2 linked regions of the Homo sapiens genome follow. The protein of the gene in region 1 purifies or fractionates together with the protein of each later gene. This does not show direct contact. Each region holds a gene or a part of one and is shown on either strand. Other genes may lie near its edges.

The links. Proteins that work in one complex are often made in the same cells at the same time.
Region 2: the proteins of MYO1A (region 1) and MAP3K3 purify together in Homo sapiens (tandem affinity purification; one large-scale study listed by IntAct). This does not show direct contact.

Annotation. Positions count from the first base shown.
Region 1 is NC_000012.12:57,032,330-57,037,094, reverse strand, and holds part of MYO1A (unconventional myosin-Ia), read left to right. Parts: intron 1-3; coding exon 4-153; intron 154-254; coding exon 255-323; intron 324-713; coding exon 714-788; intron 789-4,765. UniProt on the Homo sapiens protein: Involved in directing the movement of organelles along actin filaments.
Region 2 is NC_000017.11:63,635,588-63,640,352, forward strand, and holds part of MAP3K3 (mitogen-activated protein kinase kinase kinase 3), read left to right. Parts: intron 1-4,765. UniProt on the Homo sapiens protein: Component of a protein kinase signal transduction cascade. Mediates activation of the NF-kappa-B, AP1 and DDIT3 transcriptional regulators.

The DNA.
Region 1 (4,765 bases):
CAGCTTTTCTACCTCGAAGAACAGAGGCGCCTGAGACTCCAGCAGCTGGCCACACTCATACAGAAGATTTACCGAGGCTGGCGCTGCCGCACCCACTACCAACTGATGCGAAAGAGTCAGATCCTCATCTCCTCTTGGTTTCGGGGAAACATGGTACGGTCATCCCCAAAGTCCCACTCTGTTCACTCTAATAGGGAAGATGGAAGGTGGCTCAGGAGGTGCCATTTTTCTAACAACTCCTATGTTTTCTACAGCAAAAGAAATGCTATGGGAAGATAAAGGCATCCGTGTTATTGATCCAGGCTTTTGTGAGAGGGTGGAAGGTAATGGAGAGTGGAAGAGAGGTTTCCTCACATTGTTTCTCCTGGATTGTGTCACCTGCTGGCTAGAGCAGCAGAGAGCTAGTCCTGCCTGCACCCAGGCCGCACCTCTGTGTATCAGCCGGTCCATGTGTGGGTGGGTGTCTGGGAGTGAGAGGCCTGTAGGGGAGACCTGTAGAGGTGTCTGGGTGGGTAGATGCCTAACTTGGCAGCAGAACTTTGCCTTCTGCTCTAAGTGTCCTCACTGCCAACTTGTCTGATTTTACTTCCAACTTCCAGCTACAGTCTCAGCTCTTTATCTTACTCAGGTCTTTGCGTGGTTGAAAAATAGTACAACCTCTTCTAGAATCTGCCTATCTTCACTTTGGCTCCTTTCTTGTACTTTTCTGCCAGGCCCGAAAGAATTATCGCAAATATTTCCGGTCAGAGGCTGCCCTCACCTTGGCAGATTTCATCTACAAGAGCATGGTAAGTGGTAGGGGTTAGGGTGGATGTTAGGGATGGAGCAGGGAGGCACAGGTTTGGGAGAGGGGTTTGAGAAGAGGCAACCCAAAGCTTTCCCCCAAGAGTTTCCTCAGTCTGCATGTACTTAAGTCCTAGGAGAAGAGGGCAGCTACCTGCAGGGACCAGGCCCCAGTGCCTTGGACTCGGGGGCAGAATCAGATAGCATTTTGGCATGAGTGGACAATCCAGGCAACCTTGTGGCAGGAAGGGGTCTCAGCACACCCACCATCTGGTCTATGGTCAAATAGCCTTGTGAAGATCCTGGGGCTGGATGTTTAACAACTGTTGAAGAGGCTAAGCCTCATTGAAGAGTAGAGTGATCCACACATTAACTAGCTCAACCTCCCAAGATCCATTTTAGGGTTGGGGTGAGAGTAGGCGAATTGTATCTTCCTTCTACTTCCTCTGAAACTATTGTCAGCAAGTCAGAAAGTAAATCTCAGGAAGGACCTATCCTAATTCTGGAGGACGTGGGTCAGGCTGGATGGGAAGACCCACCTGGAAGGCCTACATATTCAAACTTACAGACAGCTCCCAGGGGGAGAAAAACAGGGACAGAGAAGAGTAACTTCTGGAGACTTCAGTCAGATAGCAATAGTGCTTCTGAGAAGTGTCAGGGAGGAAACCAGGGAGGGAGAAGCACTTCCAATGAAACCTTGGGAAAGGCCAGAGAGAAGGAGGAAGAGCATGGGATCTTGGACAGAGGCTGGAGCAAATTGGTAATTGACCTCCGCTGATTGGGTTTTTGACCATAGTTAGGACCCTGACTGTGCTCATTCAGACATAAGACATGTTTGCTTGCAGCCCCTCTTTGTTGTTTGAGAGTCTGGATCCCTCAGCTCAAGAGAGGAATGGGGGCTCTGAAGCTCTGGACCTCTTTTTTGCCTTCCTGAGCCTTCATTTGCTCGTCCTCTTCCCCTTCCCAGGGAAGTTCCATCTTCCAGGTCTCTTCAGTTGCCTGATCACCTCTTGTGCTGGTGCCAGAGTGTCTGCCTTCCCACCATACATGCTTCTTGCTACACACCTGAGACCTGTAATCTGATTTTGCTGTTATCTCCTGACTGCCCTTCTTCTTCCTTTTCTTTCATCTGTGTATTGTCAGGCAGCTACTAATTGTCAACCCAGAAGCTGCTGGGTTTAGACCAGGGTCTCAATAAATCACACCCCCACAGAAGCCTGCGGGCACTGGGCACTGATTCCCCCAGTGTTTCTGAGTATTCCAGTTTGCCACTGCCTTGACTGTAACTAATGCTAGTATCCATTCTCATTTTTTTAATTTTTATTTATTTATTTATTTATTTTTTGAGACAGAGTTTCACTCTTGTCACCCAGGCTGGAGTACAATGGCGCGATCTCAGCTCACTGCAACCTCCGCCTCCCAGGTTCAAGTGATTATCCTGCCTCAGCCTCCTGAGCTGGGATTACAGGCATGCGCCACCATGCCCAGCTAATTTTTGTATTTTTAGTAGAGACAGAGTTTCACCATGTTGGCCAGGCTGGTCTTGAACTCCTGACCTCAAGTGACCCGCCCATCTCGGCCTCCCAAAGTGCTAGGATTACAGGTGTGAGCCACTGCGCCCAGCCTATTTCTTTTTTGAGATGGAATCTTGCTCTCTCGCCCAGGCTGGAATGCAGCAAGCATGATCTCGGCTCACTGCAACCTCCATCTCCCGGGCTCAAGCCATCCTTCAGCCTCGGCCTTCCCAGTAGCTGAGACCACAGGCACATGCCACCACGCCTGGCTAATTTTTTATATTTTTGGTAAAGATGTGGTTTCACCATGTTGCCCAGGCTGGTCTCAAACTCCTGAGCTCAAGTGATTCACTCGCCTTGGCCTCCCAAAGTGCTAGGATTACAGGTGTGAGCCACTGCACCCGGCCTTACCCATTATCTTTTGAACATCTACTATGCATTAAGCTCTTTACATGCATTAACTCTAATACTTTCAATAACCCTGTGAGGTAGGCTCTTTTCTTTCTCCCATTTTGTAGTTAAAAAGCCAAGGCTCAGAGAGGTTAAATAACTTGCCGGGGGTTCCACAGCTGTAAGTGGTAAAGCTGGGTTACAAACTATTTGACTCTAGAGCTTTTAACCACTGCCTAAGACTGCCCCTCATCAATAGAGGCTTGGGCAACCCATGGCCCTAGGCAGACCTGGGGGCAGGAGGGCTGCATAGGAAAGGGCAGAACTTTCTAGTTCTAGAACAAACAATAAAAAGAAGAAAGCCTTCAGAGGCTCCACATTAATTGGAACAAAGGGGATTATGACAGATGCTTAGGCATGTTTGTTGAATTATTAATAAATAAAATCAGACTAGGGACTGGGGACTCCAGTCTTGGAGGCCTTCACAGGCCCAGATCCCAAACCCACCAAACCCACTAGACCTGCAGTGGAAGCTACAATGAGCTTGGATAGTTCCTGCAGTTAACAGCAATATACTATGTATTCTGCCTCTTTCTATTTAAATTTTTTAACCTGATATCTTAGTAAAACTTTTTCATAAAAATTCCAGACATTTGGAAGTGCCAAAAATCAAGTCATTTTTTATATCTTCAGTAATTCTGTGCCATAAACAAACAGGTTGCTAGGTGCTCTATGGGATGTAAAACCTTGGCCAGGCAAGGTGACTCACTCCTGTAATCCTAGCACTTTGGGAGGCTGAGGCGGGAATATTGCTTGAGCCCAGGAATTTGTGACCAGTCTGGGCAACATAGTGAGACCTAGACTCTACAAAAAAAATTTAAAAATTAGGTGGGTGTGGTGGCTCATACCTGTAGTCCCAGCTACTTGGAAGGCTGAGGTGGGAGGATCGCTTGAGCCCAGGAGGCGGGCAAGGCTGCAGTGAGCTGTGATGGTGGCACTGCACTCCAGCCTGGGCGACAGAGCAAAACCCTGTCTCAAAAAAAGAGGCAAAAACAAAAACTTAAGAATCCTTGTTCTAGATTGGGGCAGACTAAAGAGTCAGTTGCCATGGATGAAGCTTGATTGGATCCTGGAAAAGGAAAAATAAAGCTTCAAAGGACATGTTTAGAAGTTTATAAAGGACATGTAGAGAAATCTGAGAGTGGATCGCTGTTGGATTAGTGATGTTGATTTTCTTAGGTGTGGTGATGGAGTTATGATTGTGTAAGAGAATGTTCCAGTTCTTGGGAGAGGCATGCTGACATTTTAGGGTAAAATGTCATGATATCTATAACCTACTTTAGGATGGTAGGGTAGCAAGGATTTGTGTAAATGTGTATATGCATGTATTTATATGCACACATATGTGTGTGTGTCAGAGCACACAGATAGTGCAAGGTGTTAACATTATCAGTTGGTGCATTTAGATGAGGAACATACAGTATACAGATGTTAATTGTATCTTTTTTCAACTTTTCTGTAAGTTAAAAAAACTTTCAAAATAATAAGCTATATTGAATTTTTAAAACATCATATTATGCTATTCTTCTGTATAAATTCTCCAATGGTGTTCCATTTCACTCCTTACCACAGCCTACAAGGCCCATCATGATCTGCCCCGACCTACTCTCTGATCCTCTCTCTTCCTGCTCAAGTGATTCTGGCCACCCTTTTTTTTTCTTCTTTTTTAGACAGTCTTGCTCTGTCACCCAAGCTGGAGTGCAGTGGTGCGATCTTGGCTCACTGCAACCTCCACCTCCCGGGTTCAAGCGATTCTCCTGTCTCAACCTCTAGAGTAGCTGGGATTACAGGCATGCGCCACCATGCCCAGCTAATTTTTGCTCACCCTGGCTTTTTAATGTCTCTGGAATATGCTGCCACTCATTCCTGCCTCAGGGTCTACTTCTTTGCATCACAGCAGATGCCATTATCTGACATCACACTATATATTTATTTGCTTGTGTAGTTGGTCCCCTTCTCCACCCTACAGTAGAATGTAAGTCCAGTGAAAATGAAGACTTTGTTCACTGTTATGTCCC
Region 2 (4,765 bases), on another chromosome or scaffold:
AAGATAGGGTAAGAGGTAGTGCGGGGAAGATGTTGGGGAGAGGTATTTATAGCCTAGTATAATGAAAGGAGCCTGGTGATATTAATAATCATTTAACATCGGATTTTATAATTCACAGAGTTACACATTTATTATTATTATTGTAGTTTTTGTTAGCCTAGGCCTGAGATAGAATGAAACAGTTTTCTTCATTACCAGTTCTTCTGCCAGAAAGTCCATGCTTAGGAAGAGAGAGGAATGAAAGATCAAAACCTAATTTAAATGGTGAAGAGTTGCCAAATTTGGTTAAGAAATGTCTAATTGGATTACAGATTCAAATTACAGAGTCCCAGTTGAAAGAAGCTAAGCATTTTGGCTAGCTGGAAAGGTTGTTTATTCAAGGGTGGAATGGGGCTGGCAGAGGCAAACAGCCTTTCACTATGAGAATGGCAGTGCTGGCTACAAGGCAGAGTCGAGACTGGCACAGCTTCATGGAGCTCAAGCTTGGCCCAGCAAGGAAAGCCAGAGGAGCTGTGGGTTCATTAACAGGATTGTTTGGGTGCCGAGGCCTGGAAGAACTGAAAAATCTAATTTAATATCTCTGCTTAGCAAGACTTGAGACATCCTTTTCCCTAAGTAAACAAGCTTGGTAAGTAATTGAAAAAGAGAATGGATTTGAGAACAAATAGGCAGCTATGGAAGTACATGGGCAGTGAGCTATTAACAATTTTCTAGGAGGTAGATTCTGTATTCTCTGTATTCTAGGAGTACAGAGAATACTGTACACTAGGAGCATTTGCTGTATTCTCCCTTTTGTATATTGGGTCTCTGGAAGCCTACAGCGTGGTTAGAGCTGACTGAATATTCTTAGATGTGTGGCACATCCTACGTGTGGCTGGGTCCTATGGATAGTTTTGCAGGCCATGATGTGCAGTGTCCCTTTAGCAGTCATTAACTCACAGTGAGTTATCAATGGGTGTTAGTTCTCTGTGGGTCTGACAACTTAGTATAGTGAAAAGAGTGCTGGCCTGTGGCTGAACATGCTGGAGAAGAGCTTGCCTGGCCACAGGGACACAGCCACGCAGATCCAGCATGTGTCTCCCATGTGCCAAGTGGAGCCCCCAGCCAAGAAGGCAGCCACACTAGCAGAGGGTGACAAGGACAATGACATTGACCTGTTTGTCAGCGACAATGAGGAGGAAGACAAGGAGGCAGCCCGGCTGTGGGAGAAGTGGCTGAGGTGGTATGTGGAGAAGAAGGCCAAGAAGACTGCGTTGGTGGTCAAGTCCTCCATCCCGCTGGACATCAAGCCTTGGGACAATGAGACCAATATAGCCCAATTGGAGGCCTGTATGCGCTTCATCCAGCTGGACGGGCTGGTCTAGGGGGGCCTCCAAGCTGGTGCCCATGGGCTACGGTATCCGGAAGCTGCAGATTCAGTGTGTGGTGGGGGACGACAAGGTGGGGACAAACTTTCTGGAAGAGGAGATTACCAAGTTTGAGAGCGTGTGTAGAGTGTCGATGTTGCAGCTTTCAACAAGGTCTGAAGCCTTAGAGTGTGTGTGCGTGCATGCGCACGTGTGCAAGTGTGTGAGGCCCTGCCACTATTAAAAACTGAGACCAACCAAAAAAAAAAAAAAAAAAAGAGTACTGGCCTAGGAGTCATAGAGTTGTTACTCATCTATTAATGTAGGATTTTATAATTTATAGAGTGCTTTCAACAACAGTTAACATCAATGCTATAAGCATGTGTATAAGGTTTACACAGCTTTTACACAAAGGTATTGAGTAGAGGCAGGAAGTAAATCCAAGCCTTCTGATTCCTAGTCACCGTAATTTTACCATGTATAAGTCATATAACCTTTCTGAAGTGAGTTTTTCCATCTGAAATATAGACTTAATACTCACTGTGTCTACCTCTTAAGATTGTTGTAAGATCATAGACAGAATGTGAAATATTTTGTACATTGTAAAACAAATGTACAAATGTGAAGTTGCAGTGGTTATGTCACTTCTTATGTTCTGGCACTGCAGGTGTGAGCTTTGGGGAAAGCTTCTAACTACAACTGTCCATAGTGTTGTGGAACTGAAAGGATTAAGGTTTTTCTCTCTTTATGGGATTATCATTACTGTTTATCTGATGATCTTTGCAAATTTCTGAAGCTAGCCTAATTTCTGAAAATCCCAGTGGAGGAAGAAATGGAATCCTTATTTCCATGGATTCCTGTTTCCCTTGAATCTTATCAAAATGGTAGGTAGATACTTGAACAGAGTCTGGGCTCTGGATCTAACCCTCCAGATGTTCATGAGTGGGTGCTTCAGAACAGAAAAGCTGCTTTCTTCATGATAGGCACAAGCAGGGCAGGGCCTTGGCTATCATTTCTAGAGGAAGAGAATTCCAGGATCTGTTCCCCCAGCAGGGTCAGTGATTGAGCAGACTGTCTTTTGCTTTCAGTGTGAAAGACCTGGCTCTTCAGGACCTCCCTTCTCTTTCAAGGGTTGTTGATAAGATGGGCTGGCCAGTTTGAAAATAAGATATAAAACAACACACAAGCCTGGCATTATATTTTGTAAGAAGATTGCTTTATAATCGTCTCTTCCACTGATCTCCTACAACTTTCCAGAGTCATGCTTAAAAATAAAATTTTAATTTTTGTTGTATTTTTTTTTCCTTTCATTCACTTACTCTCTTTGGCAAAATAAGGACTGCAATTCCAGAAATGTGGGGAGGCATCAAAGGTATGTAGCAAATGCAGGGAGAGAAATCAGTACAGAATCAGAGCGAGGATAAGAAGAATGATGGGTAACTGAGGCCTTTTTCAGGTCAAGTTAGTTCATAAACCTTTGGTTAATAAATCCTGATTTTTCTGGATTCTTGAAAGCTTTTTGGGCTACATGTTCAGCTGTTGAGTCCAGACTTTGAGAAGGTCATTTCTGCTTTAGTGTTATTGTCAGTTATTCCTGTTGCTCCTGCTGAGTCCCTGAATCTGTAGCTCAACCCGACAGCCCGCACTGTCTCTCTCCTGAGCGTGGCTGTCACTACTGCTCTCACCGGATTGCCTGTGGTGGGGAGGGGACATGAAGCTGCTTAGACCTGAATTTCTGTACTAGAACTTTTTTCTCAGTAGCTGACACCTCCATTCAGTTTAACATGTGCCTATGGTCACGCTTCTCAGACACACAAAAGAAATGTATGTCGGTCAGGAGTGGTGGCTCATGCCTGTAACCCCAACACTTTGGGAGGCCGAGGCAGGCGGATCACCTGGCCTGGCCAACGTGGTGAAACCCTGTCTGTACAAAAATACAAAAATTAGCTGGGCATGATGATAGGTGCTTGTAATCCCAGCTACTTGGGAGGCTGAGGTGGGAGAATCGCTTGTACTTGGGAGGCGGAGGTTGTAGTGAGCCGAGATCACTGCACTCCAGCCTGGGCGACAGAGCAAGACTCCATCTCAGAAAAAAAAGAAAAAAGAAAGGTATGTCATATTCCCTGTACCCCAGGAATCATGCAGTCTTACTGGGAAGTGAGGACTACATGAAAAAAAGAAAGTATGATATGACTATGCCTCACTGTGTGGTACAGAGAGTAAGTGCTATAGAAGGCCAGGAAAATGAAAGATGAGCCTGGGCCAGAGGAGCTATGGAGTCATTTCAGGTGGAAGGGCACTTGAACTAGGCTGTGAAGGAAGTATAAACAGTTAGGTAGAACGGAGGAAGGGTGGCACTCCAGGTCAGGAAACAGAATGATTAAAGGCCTAGGGGAAGAAGCAAACATGGCTTGTATCAGGAAACAAGGTGAGCTTTGATCTGGCTTTAAAGGGGGGTCCCTGTGGGGAACAAACAGTGTGAGATGATCAGGTAAACTGAATGAGCCTAAATCCCAGAGGGCTTTGAGTGATAGCAGAGAATTTAGACTTTATTCCATAGATAATGGGTATCACTGATTACCTTATGAACAAAGAAGGAACATGGTGAAAAAGGTGATTGAGATGGTTGGAACTGTAGAGGAACGCAGAGTGGGTTGGAAATGGGGAGCTGAAATGTATCCTCACTCTGATTCTGTACTGATTTCTCTCCCTGCATTTGCTACATACCTTTGATGCCTCCCCACATTTCTGGAATTGCAGTCCTTATTTTGCCAAAGAGAGTAAGTGAATGAAAGGAAAAAAAAATACAACAAAAATTAAAATTTTATTTTTAAGCATGACTCTGGAAAGTTGTAGGAGATCAGTGGAAGAGATGATTATAAAGCAACCTTCTTACAAAATATAATGCCAGGCTTGTGTGTTGCTTTATATCTTATTTTCAGCTTTATACATTTATAAATGTATAAAGATATAATGCTTTATATCTTATTGACTCTGGGATCAAGGGGAAAGGGTCTCACTGAAGGTGATGTCAGGGAGAATGGGAAGCAGAGTCTTATACCGGAGGTCTTTGAGAGGAGAATTGAAATTTGCTCCCTGGCTGTGAGGAGGAAAAGGAAGGAAAGAATCAAGCATTACTCAGAGATGTAACTGTGTAGCTGGGAGCACAGCAGTACCAATGTTAGAAATAGTGACACTGAGCCAGGCATGGTGACATGCGCCTGTAGTCCAAGCTGCTTGGGAGGCTGAGGCAGGAGGATCACTTGAACCCAGGAGCTCAAATCTGTAGCGCACAGTGATTGTGCCTGTGAATAGCTACTGCACTCCAGCCTGGGCAACATAGCGAGACCCCATCTCTGAAAAGAAAGTAATAGTTGAGAAGGGAGACTAGTTTAGGAGAGTAGTTGATATAGACACAT